Regions from separate parts of the Homo sapiens genome. Here region 2 is reported to be linked to region 1. The links are microRNA targets in miRTarBase. Many come from high-throughput screens and were not tested one by one. Region 1 holds a microRNA gene; the other region holds the end of a gene's coding sequence.

The links. Region 1 holds the annotated microRNA hsa-miR-4651 (CGGGGUGGGUGAGGUCGGGC, at 1,385-1,404, shown strand). A microRNA usually pairs through its seed, bases 2 to 8, with sites in the 3' UTR of a target mRNA and lowers its output. Matches are read on the target gene's strand: a 7mer-m8 pairs with bases 2 to 8, a 7mer-A1 pairs with bases 2 to 7 and ends in A, and an 8mer does both.
Region 2: the mRNA of EPN1 is a reported target of hsa-miR-4651. Seed matches in the 3' UTR shown: 7mer-m8 at 553-559 and 8mer at 611-618.

Annotation. Positions count from the first base shown.
Region 1 is chr7:75,913,822-75,918,321 of GRCh38, forward strand. It overlaps MIR4651 (microRNA 4651), which reads left to right and starts at 1,376; the gene lies at 1,376-1,448. It overlaps POR (cytochrome p450 oxidoreductase), which reads left to right and starts at 1,334. Exons shown (of 16, transcript NM_001395413.1): 1 at 1,334-1,358. LOC124901680 (a long non-coding RNA gene) reads left to right here. Exons shown (of 2, transcript XR_007060393.1): 2 at 475-673. RefSeq lists an enhancer at 742-791 and a silencer at 1,052-1,541.
Region 2 is chr19:55,694,897-55,698,896 of GRCh38, forward strand. EPN1 (epsin 1) reads left to right here. Exons shown (of 11, transcript NM_001130072.2): 10 at 1-87; 11 at 252-4,000. The coding sequence ends at 460. Among named protein-coding and RNA genes, the nearest start is that of EPN1, 22 kb to the left of the region's middle.

The DNA of each region.
Region 1 (4,500 bases):
AGTAGGTGGGATTACAGGCACCCGCCACCATGCCCAGCTAATTTTTGTATTTTTAGTAGAGACGGGGTTTTGCCATGTTGGTCAGGCTGGTCTCGAACTCCTGACCTCAGGTGATCCGCCCACCTCAGCCTACCAAAGTTCTGGGATTACAGGCGTGAGCCACCGTGCCTGGGCTATTTTTAAAAGATGGAGAAGGGGCTCTGAGAGAAGTGAGTTGCACAGTGTTGCAAAAGGAATTCACAGCACAGCTAGTAATAATAGTAGTAGTAGTAATAATAACAATGGCGATGAGAACACTTAGTAATGCCGTGCTCTAAATCCTTTAGGAACAAAGGTTATACCACTTAATCTTCATGACCCTGTAAAGTAGAAACCATAGCAGGAGGCAGAGGTGGGCTTCACTCCCCAACCAAGGCTGCCAGACTTTTCAAACCCCAGAAGCTCTCTGTATCCCCCCACTCCTCTTCCATCCAGGGCTTGCCTCCTGCTTGGTCACTTCCCACCCCCAACAGGCCGGCCTTCAAAAGCGAGCTCTAGGCAGCGTGTGGGACCTCACGCCTGTAATCGCAGCGCTTTGAGAGGCCGAGGAGGGAGGATCACTTGAGACCAGTTCGAGACCAACCTGGGCATCATAGCGAGACCGCATCTCTGCAAATAAAATAAAATAAAATTAGCTAGGTGTGGTGGCGCGCCTGTAGTCCCAGCTACTGGGAGGCTGAAGTGGGAGAATCGCCTGAGCACAGGAGTTGAAGGCTGCAGTGAGCTGTGACTGCACCACTGCAATCCAGCCTGGGCGACAGAACGAGACCCTGTCTCTAAAAACAAACGCGCGCCCTCCGCCGTCAGGCTGGATGGAGGGAACCCAGGGAGACGACTTGGGCCTGAAGCCTCGCCAATTTCAGGTGAGGAAACAGGGCCGTGGAGGAGACAATGTGGCGATCACAAGCAAGCGGCGGCCCGAAGGAGGAGGCTAGACCGGCGGGCGCACAGCCACAGTTCTGCAGTGATCCCCGGGAAGGTGGGCAGCCGGCCCGGTGACCTGCAGGGTCCGAGCTGTAGAAGCCGCAGCCGCCGTCTCCAGGCGACTCCGCCACCCCCGGAACCACGCACTTTCATTTCTCTGCCGGGCGACCCAGCCGAGCCGCGAGGGGGCGTGGCCGGGCCGGGCCGTACCAAGAGCGCAAATTTGCAGGGGGAAGCGCGGGGCTCCGGGAATGCACGCGCGGCTCGAGTGGGCGGGGCGGCGGCCCAATGGCCACGCCCCCACCCCCGCGGCCGGCGAAGGCGGTGGTAGCGCCTCAGTGGTGTGGGCCTGAGCCCTGCCCAGGTGCCCGCAGAGAGCAGCCGGGCTGCCAGCGGTGAGTGCTATCTTTCGCGGCGACGGCGGGGTGGGTGAGGTCGGGCCCCAAGACTCGGGGTTTGCCGGGCGCCTCAGTTCACCGCGGCCGCCTGGCTCTCTGCGTCGGGGTGGGCCCTCGGGCCTGGGCACTGCGCGTCTGGCCCGACGCTCGGGCGGAAGGCATGGCTCCCACCCCGGCCCTCCTCCGCGTCGCCCTTCCCCTAGAGCTGATCTCCCGCGGCGGCCTGAGGGTCGACTTTTCCACAGCTTGGGCCGAGAGAGCCCGGCAGGCCCTCGGCTGAGGGTTAGGGCTCGGTATCTCAGGGCTCGGGGTCCAGTCCCCGCGCCGCCGCCCCCCACGGGCTAAGCCACTTTAACTCTCCGAGCCTCAGTTTCCCCATCTGTACGATGAATGGGCCTCGGGAGGCAGCGAATTCTGGGGGTACCTAACGTGAGAGGCGCTCGATGCATGCTCATGGGACCCGAATCTAACCCTGCAGCATCAGGTGGGCTGAGTCGATGGATCACGGGAGCCCCCCAGCCCGGCCTGCATCCCTGAGGGCAGTGCCCCTCGCAGTCAGGTGTCTCGGCGGCCCCCACAACACAGGTACCCGGATCTCCTGGGGGAGCCGGGACACCCTTAGATCGGGGGAGCAATTGGGTAAGAGTTCAAGGTCTCTTGGGCGCCAGGGGGAGGAGAGTAGAGGTTTCAGTGAGCTTGATTGACTTCGACTTTCTGCGTATTGTTTTTCAAAACGAGTTACCCTTGTGTAAACTGGTGACCACTAATAAGGAGTTTGGGGCTGTTTCAATGAAAGTGGCTGTCTCCTCTCTTAAACCCTTAAAGCTGCAGCCTTGCCTTGCCTTGCCTCTGAGCTTGGCCAAGCTGGAGAATGATGCCAGCACAAAAGGAGACAGGACTGGACTGGGTGGCCCTGGTTTGATTCTTGGCAAGCAAGATACCTCCTGGAGCCTCCGTTTTCTGATCAGTGGGTCTGGTAGTAAGACAGCCACCCTGCTCTCCCCACAGGGTTGAGATTCTGAGGATCAAGACAGGGTCCCAGAGAGTGGCATCGAGAACTTTAATCCTCCTTGTAAGCAGAACGTTTATGGAACCCTCTGGGGGATCCAGTATCCCCACCGTTGTTCACTGCTGTAATTCCTTGGGTCTTGCTTTATGGAGAAGGCATTGATTCATTAACCATTTGCAAGTTCTACCTACGGAAATCCCTTTTGAGTGGTTATGGGGTTGGCTTGGTCAGGAGAACAGCTCCAAAGGCCCAGTTAGTAAACCAGGGAACCCAGAAAGGTCCACTTCCTTTTTTTTGGGAGGAGGGCTGTTTTAGGAGTTCTTATTTTCCTTTTAAGAGAGTGGTTTTTGAGCTACTTATGACCTTCATGCCATCTAATGTTGGAAACTTTCGCTGAGCAGATAGCTTATTATAAAAAGTATTTGTACAACATCCGCATTTCAGAGAATGGGATGCTAGCTGCCAGTTGCGTGGTGGTGTGGAAACTTAGGAGTGATCTTAATTTTCCAAAATTCTTCAGGTCTAGCACTTGAAGAAATAATAGGTAGATTTGAAATGAAACAACCCAGGGATATTCCTGAAAACAGCAGCATTGACCGCAGCCAATGTAAATCAGGTGTGGATCGTCCTGGGTAGTAGGAGTTTATAAATGCCACAGAGGATGTTTGCTGCCAGACATACCTGAATTTTAGGACCTGCTGTTGGTTAACTCTGGGTTGATCCACCCTTAACCCCTTGAAAATCAGAATCTGTGTTAGGTAAGTCTGTGTATGATTAGGAGACAGGCCAATTGAAATCAAAACTGCTTGGCAAATCCAGAACATTTACTCGTGAAGTCCATGGAACATTTCAAGTTAAAAATAATTTAGCTTTTAAGTAACTTTTTTTTTTTTGTGAGACAGGTCTCACTCTGTCGTGCAGGCTGGAGTGCAGTGGCGCAATCATAGCTCACTGCAGCCTCAACCTCCAGGATTCAAGCAATCCTCCCTCCTCAGCCTCCCAAGTAGTTGGGAGTACAGGCACGCACCACCACACCCAGCTAATTTTTTAAATGTTTTTTAGAGATTTGGTTTGCCATGTTGCCCAGGCTGGTCTCGAATTCTGGGGTTCAAGTGGTCCTCCTGCTTTGACCTCCTAAAGTGCTGAGATTACAGGTGTGAGCCACCGTTCCTGGCTTTCTTATTTCTTCTTCTTTTTTTTTTTTTTTTTTCTGATGGAAGCTCTTGAAGTTATAGGACCTTTCATGGTTCCAGAGAGGCTGGCCGCCCCTACAAGAGCTTCGATGTCCTTGTGCTTTAGGGAGGAGCCAGAGAAACAGAGGTCAAGCTCTGGCACTAGCACCGTGTGTGGCCTCAATTGAGCATGTTGGGATTTAACTTTCTGTTATATGTCAGACTCACTTAAAAATTAAAGTTAGAAAAAGGTGAAATGGAGAAATGACAATTTTCTTTTCTTTTCTTTTCTTTTTTTGAGATGGAGTCTCGCTCTGTCGCCCAGGCTGGAGCGCAGTGGGCTCAGTGCAGCCTCCACCTCCCCCAGGTTCAAGCAATTTTCCTTGCTTGAATTCTGCCTCAGCCTCCTGAGTAGCTGGAATTTCGAGTACCCACCACCTGGCCAAAGATTCTGTGCTCATTAGCACACAGCCTCCCAGGTGGCTACAGCCTTAAAAGACTTTCAAATGCCAATTCTAGGCTGGGAACAGTGGCTCACGCCTGTAATTCCGGCACTTTGGGAGACCAAGGTGGGTGAATTGCTTGAGTCCAGGAGTTTGAGACCAGCCTGGGCAACACGGCGAATCCCTGTCTCTATAAAAAAAATACAAATACAAAAATTGACTGGGCATGGTGGCTCACGCCTGTAATCCCAGCACTTTGGGAGGCCGAGGCAGGCAGATCACTTGAGGTCAGGAGTTCGAGACCAGCCTGGCCAACGTGGTGAAACCCCGTCTCTACTAAAAATACAAAAATTAGCCGGTGTGGTGGTGTGCACCTGTAATCCCAACTACTCAGGAGGCTGAGGCAGAAGAATCACTTGAACCTGGGAAGCGGAGGTTGCAGTGAGCCGAGATCGTGCTGCTGCACTCCAGCCTGGGTGACAGAGTGAGACTCTGTCTCAGAAAAAAAAACCCAA
Region 2 (4,000 bases), not on the chromosome of region 1:
CAGCCCTCGTCGACCTGGACTCGCTGGTGAGCCGGCCGGGCCCCACGCCGCCTGGAGCCAAGGCCTCCAACCCCTTCCTGCCAGGCGGTGAGTGTGGGCCCATCACCTGCTCAAGTCCTTCCTGTGGGTTCCACCAGAGGAGGTGCCTCACGGGGCAGGGACACTTCGCCCTTTGCCTGCACATGCTGGATGGACACAGGTGGGCTGCGCCACTGACTCCACTCCGTGTCTCTGGTTTACTCTTCCTGCAGGAGGCCCAGCCACTGGCCCTTCCGTCACCAACCCCTTCCAGCCCGCGCCTCCCGCGACGCTCACCCTGAACCAGCTCCGTCTCAGTCCTGTGCCTCCCGTCCCTGGAGCGCCACCCACGTACATCTCTCCCCTTGGCGGGGGCCCTGGCCTGCCCCCCATGATGCCCCCGGGCCCCCCGGCCCCCAACACTAATCCCTTCCTCCTATAATCCAGGGCGGAAGGGGGCCTGGCTCCATCCGGCTGCCCCATTCCGGCTCCCTGGGAGATCAGTGTTGTGAGTGCATGTGAAATGGGGGATCCCCACCCCCAGTGCCCTTCCCCTTCCTGGGGCCCACTCACACTACACCCTCTTCCTTTCCCACCCCACCTCCCCGGAGAGAAACTGGACATGGGGCCTGGGGAGGGGAGCTGGCCAGAGGAGGACCCCTTTCCCGTGGCATTAGAAGGGGGAGGGGTGGCTGGGGCCCCCACCCATTCCCCCTCCCTCCAAACTCCCAACCCCCAGTCAGTGTTTGAGCCTCCTCGTTCCCCTCACGCACCCGCTCACGCACCCTCGGTGAATCCTTGGTGATGATTTTGGCAACTTTGGGAATAAATGGCAATTCCCACGGGCTTGGCACTCCCAGATTCCCATCTGTGATTTCGTGTGTCCCCCAGAGCCCCTTCATCCAGGGACCCAGGGCTCAGGTCACATCTCTTTCTCGGGGGTGGCTGGCAACCAGCCCCTCTGTCTCAGAAGCCCTGATTTCCCTGACCCTCCCAGGTCAAGGGATGGCTGGGTTGAGGGTGGACTGTGCGAGGCCTGGCGGAGCTGTAGCCCACACAGGTCCAGGTGGTCGGGAGGCCACTCATGGCCAGACGCTTCCGGTGCAGGAGGCCTTGCTCTTGTGTTGAGGGGACACCAGGATGAGGTCAGAGAGTGCACTGGGGTTCAGGGAGGAGAAGAATCCTGAGAGATGGCACATGTGCAACACAGGTCACCGTCGCCATCGCCCGGGCCCACCGCAAGCATCACTAATCCATCCCTGCACTCCTGGAAAGCCGGGTCAGCCTCTGCCGGCTGAGCTGAGTGGACCACCAGGCGCCTCCTGGTTGTCCTCTGTGTGCTGTTTTCCTCTGTGTGCTCTTGTCCTGGGCTGGACCACACCTGGTGAGACTATCCGGGAGAATCCTCGGGCCGCCTTGTGAGGGGGGTGTTGCTGTCATCTCCAGGGCTAGGTGACAGCTTGTTGCAGGCCCCACAGCCAGGGCCTCAGGGATGGGGATCTGGCCATGTCTGTTTTAAGCCGAACAGGCTGTTCTTCCATGTGGAGTCTCCCTCCGTGATCCCCTGGGGTCAAGTCCTGACGGCTGGGTTCGCTCCCTCAGTGACTCCGACAGCTCTTGTCTCAGAGGTGCTGGGGTGAAGGCTGTGTGGGGCCAGGCCCCTGGGGTCAGACTTCTTGCCCCTTCTGCCCGGGGGACGCTCTGGGCTCAGGGTGGGGCCAGACAGCTACATCACAGGGACACTTGTTATGGGTCGGGGTCCAGGGAGCACCCAGCCAGTGGAGTGTTGGAGGCCACTGAGAGGGACATGACTGCGGTGTCCGAGCAGCGTCGTGGCCACCCTGTGTGCCCACTCCCTGGTGGACAGACCTACGTCACCTGGGGATTGCAGAGCAAAAGGAGTGCTGTTGGGGTGATGTGAGGTTGGGGTTCTGTTTCTTGCTGTGAATTGGGTCATGACCTGTGTCGGAGCGTTCTCTGGCCTCCACTTGCCCCTGCAGACCAGGGTGTCTGGAGGGTTGTCGGGGGCTTGATGGAGGAATTGCTGACCACACCATGCAGGAAGAGGTGGGTCCCAGGGACACAGGAACTTTGGGGTCAGCCGGTTCCAGATTCAGTTGCAGAGGAGCATCCCCCTTGCTTAGCCAGGGAGGGGAAGCCCTCTTCTCACACCCGGCCTGGGTATGTTGTGGGAGAGTCATTTCCCAGGAGGAAATGGGGACTGTTACCGGGGGAGGGGGTGCTGTCCCCAGGCAGCAGCAAGCGTCCCTTACGCTTGGGCTGTCCGAGACCCTGCTGCTCTAGGCGGTTGTGATGGGGGAGCCCCACAGGGCACAGAGAGCCAGCTGAAGGCGGCAGCTCTGGGTGGGATCACATGGAAAGGGGAGGCGAGCCGAGCCTCCCTCTTGCCAATCTTGGTCTCCCCACAGGGTCATAGCTCCTGGGCCCCTCACTTGTCAGACCCTCCATTCACCAAATTAAGGATAAGTTTCACGATTTCGCACTGCGGAGCCTGCACTCCCTTTCTCTTCAAAAAAGCTGAGGACGAAGATAAAATGATACAGTTGGATTAGTCCAGTGGAGGGGTTAAAGGTGTGAGGCTTTAATTCTCCCCACCATTTCCTCATTTGGCAAAACAGAGAAGACAGGATTGAAAAACAAGACAAAAACCCAGAGGCTTGCACATAAATTTGGGGCTTAACTACAGCATCTTCGGCATCTTCTTTTCCCTACAGTGCGAATTACAAAGTAGCACCACAGATCTCGTGTCTCCTACTTTATTCCTCTTTCTAGAATATTCCAGCCACCAAAGTGCTCAGCAGGAGCTGCTGTGTAGGAGTCCCCCATGAGGCCCAAGCACCTGAGCTTAGTGACATACACGGTTGAACGCTGGGAGAATGCTGGGAGCCTGCTGTTGTCCCCGATTGAGGGCTCCCCCCACTGTGTGTGTATCACTCTTTCTACAGCAGATGTGTCTCTCTCCCCACAGTGGGATGGCGAGCTTGTTAAATGGCCGTGAGGAAGACTTTATTCAGGACCATCGAGACAGGTACAGGTACCATCAGTGGATGGAAAATCACTAAGAGCAAACCTCAGGGGTCCGGGGGTTTTCGGCTAAACCCACCTAGCAGGATTCTTGCTGAAGGCAGGCCAGGGTGATCAGAGGTCACCTGGGGATGGTGGAGGCTGAAGAAGCCTATCAGATGTGAGGGTGGCGGGGGTTGGGGGGGATGGCGGCGGGGTTCATTTGCTGAAAGGATTTTACAAGGGCATGCACGGATGGGCCTAGGAGGAGGTTCAGATCCCTCAGGTTTGGCTAAGCAAGAGTCATGGTGGTGCTCCCGGCTGGCTCTCAGGAGCAGATGTGCTTCTGACCCGACGTCTTCCCCCAGAGAGGGCTGAAGTGGAAAAAACCCCAGAATTTCTCCCTGGGACAGGTGAAGCGATGGGGCGTGGGACATTCCTGGGTCTCGACTCTGTTCAGGGCCTAGGGGTTGGGTGGGGAAGGCACTTGAGGGAACCTTCCTGGAGCCCGTAGGAGCTTCATCCGAGCTCCTGGGTCACCCCGCCCACCAGAGTCCAGGCCCACCAGAGTCCCCTGCCACCTGTGCTCACCCTAGCCTTACCCCTCGCTCTACTCCCGCCCTCGCCCTATCCTCGCTCCTCGCCCTACGCTTGCCCCTCGCTCTGGAGCTGCGATGCCAGCCTCAGGGCTTTCAGTCCTGCCTTGATCTTTTTTTATACTGAAACTCAATTTTACACACACAAACCCACTCCCAGCCAGCCTCTGCCTTTTGCCTTTTCCTCATGTTCTCATTGAATAGGAAGAAATGCCCTTTTTTTTCCCCCCTAGAAGGAGTCTTGCTCTGTTGCCAGGCTGGAGTGCAGTGGCACGATCTCGGCTCACCGCAACCTCCACCTCCCGGGTTCAAGCGATTCTCCTGCCTCAGCCTCTCGAGTAGCTGGGATTACAGGTGCCCAC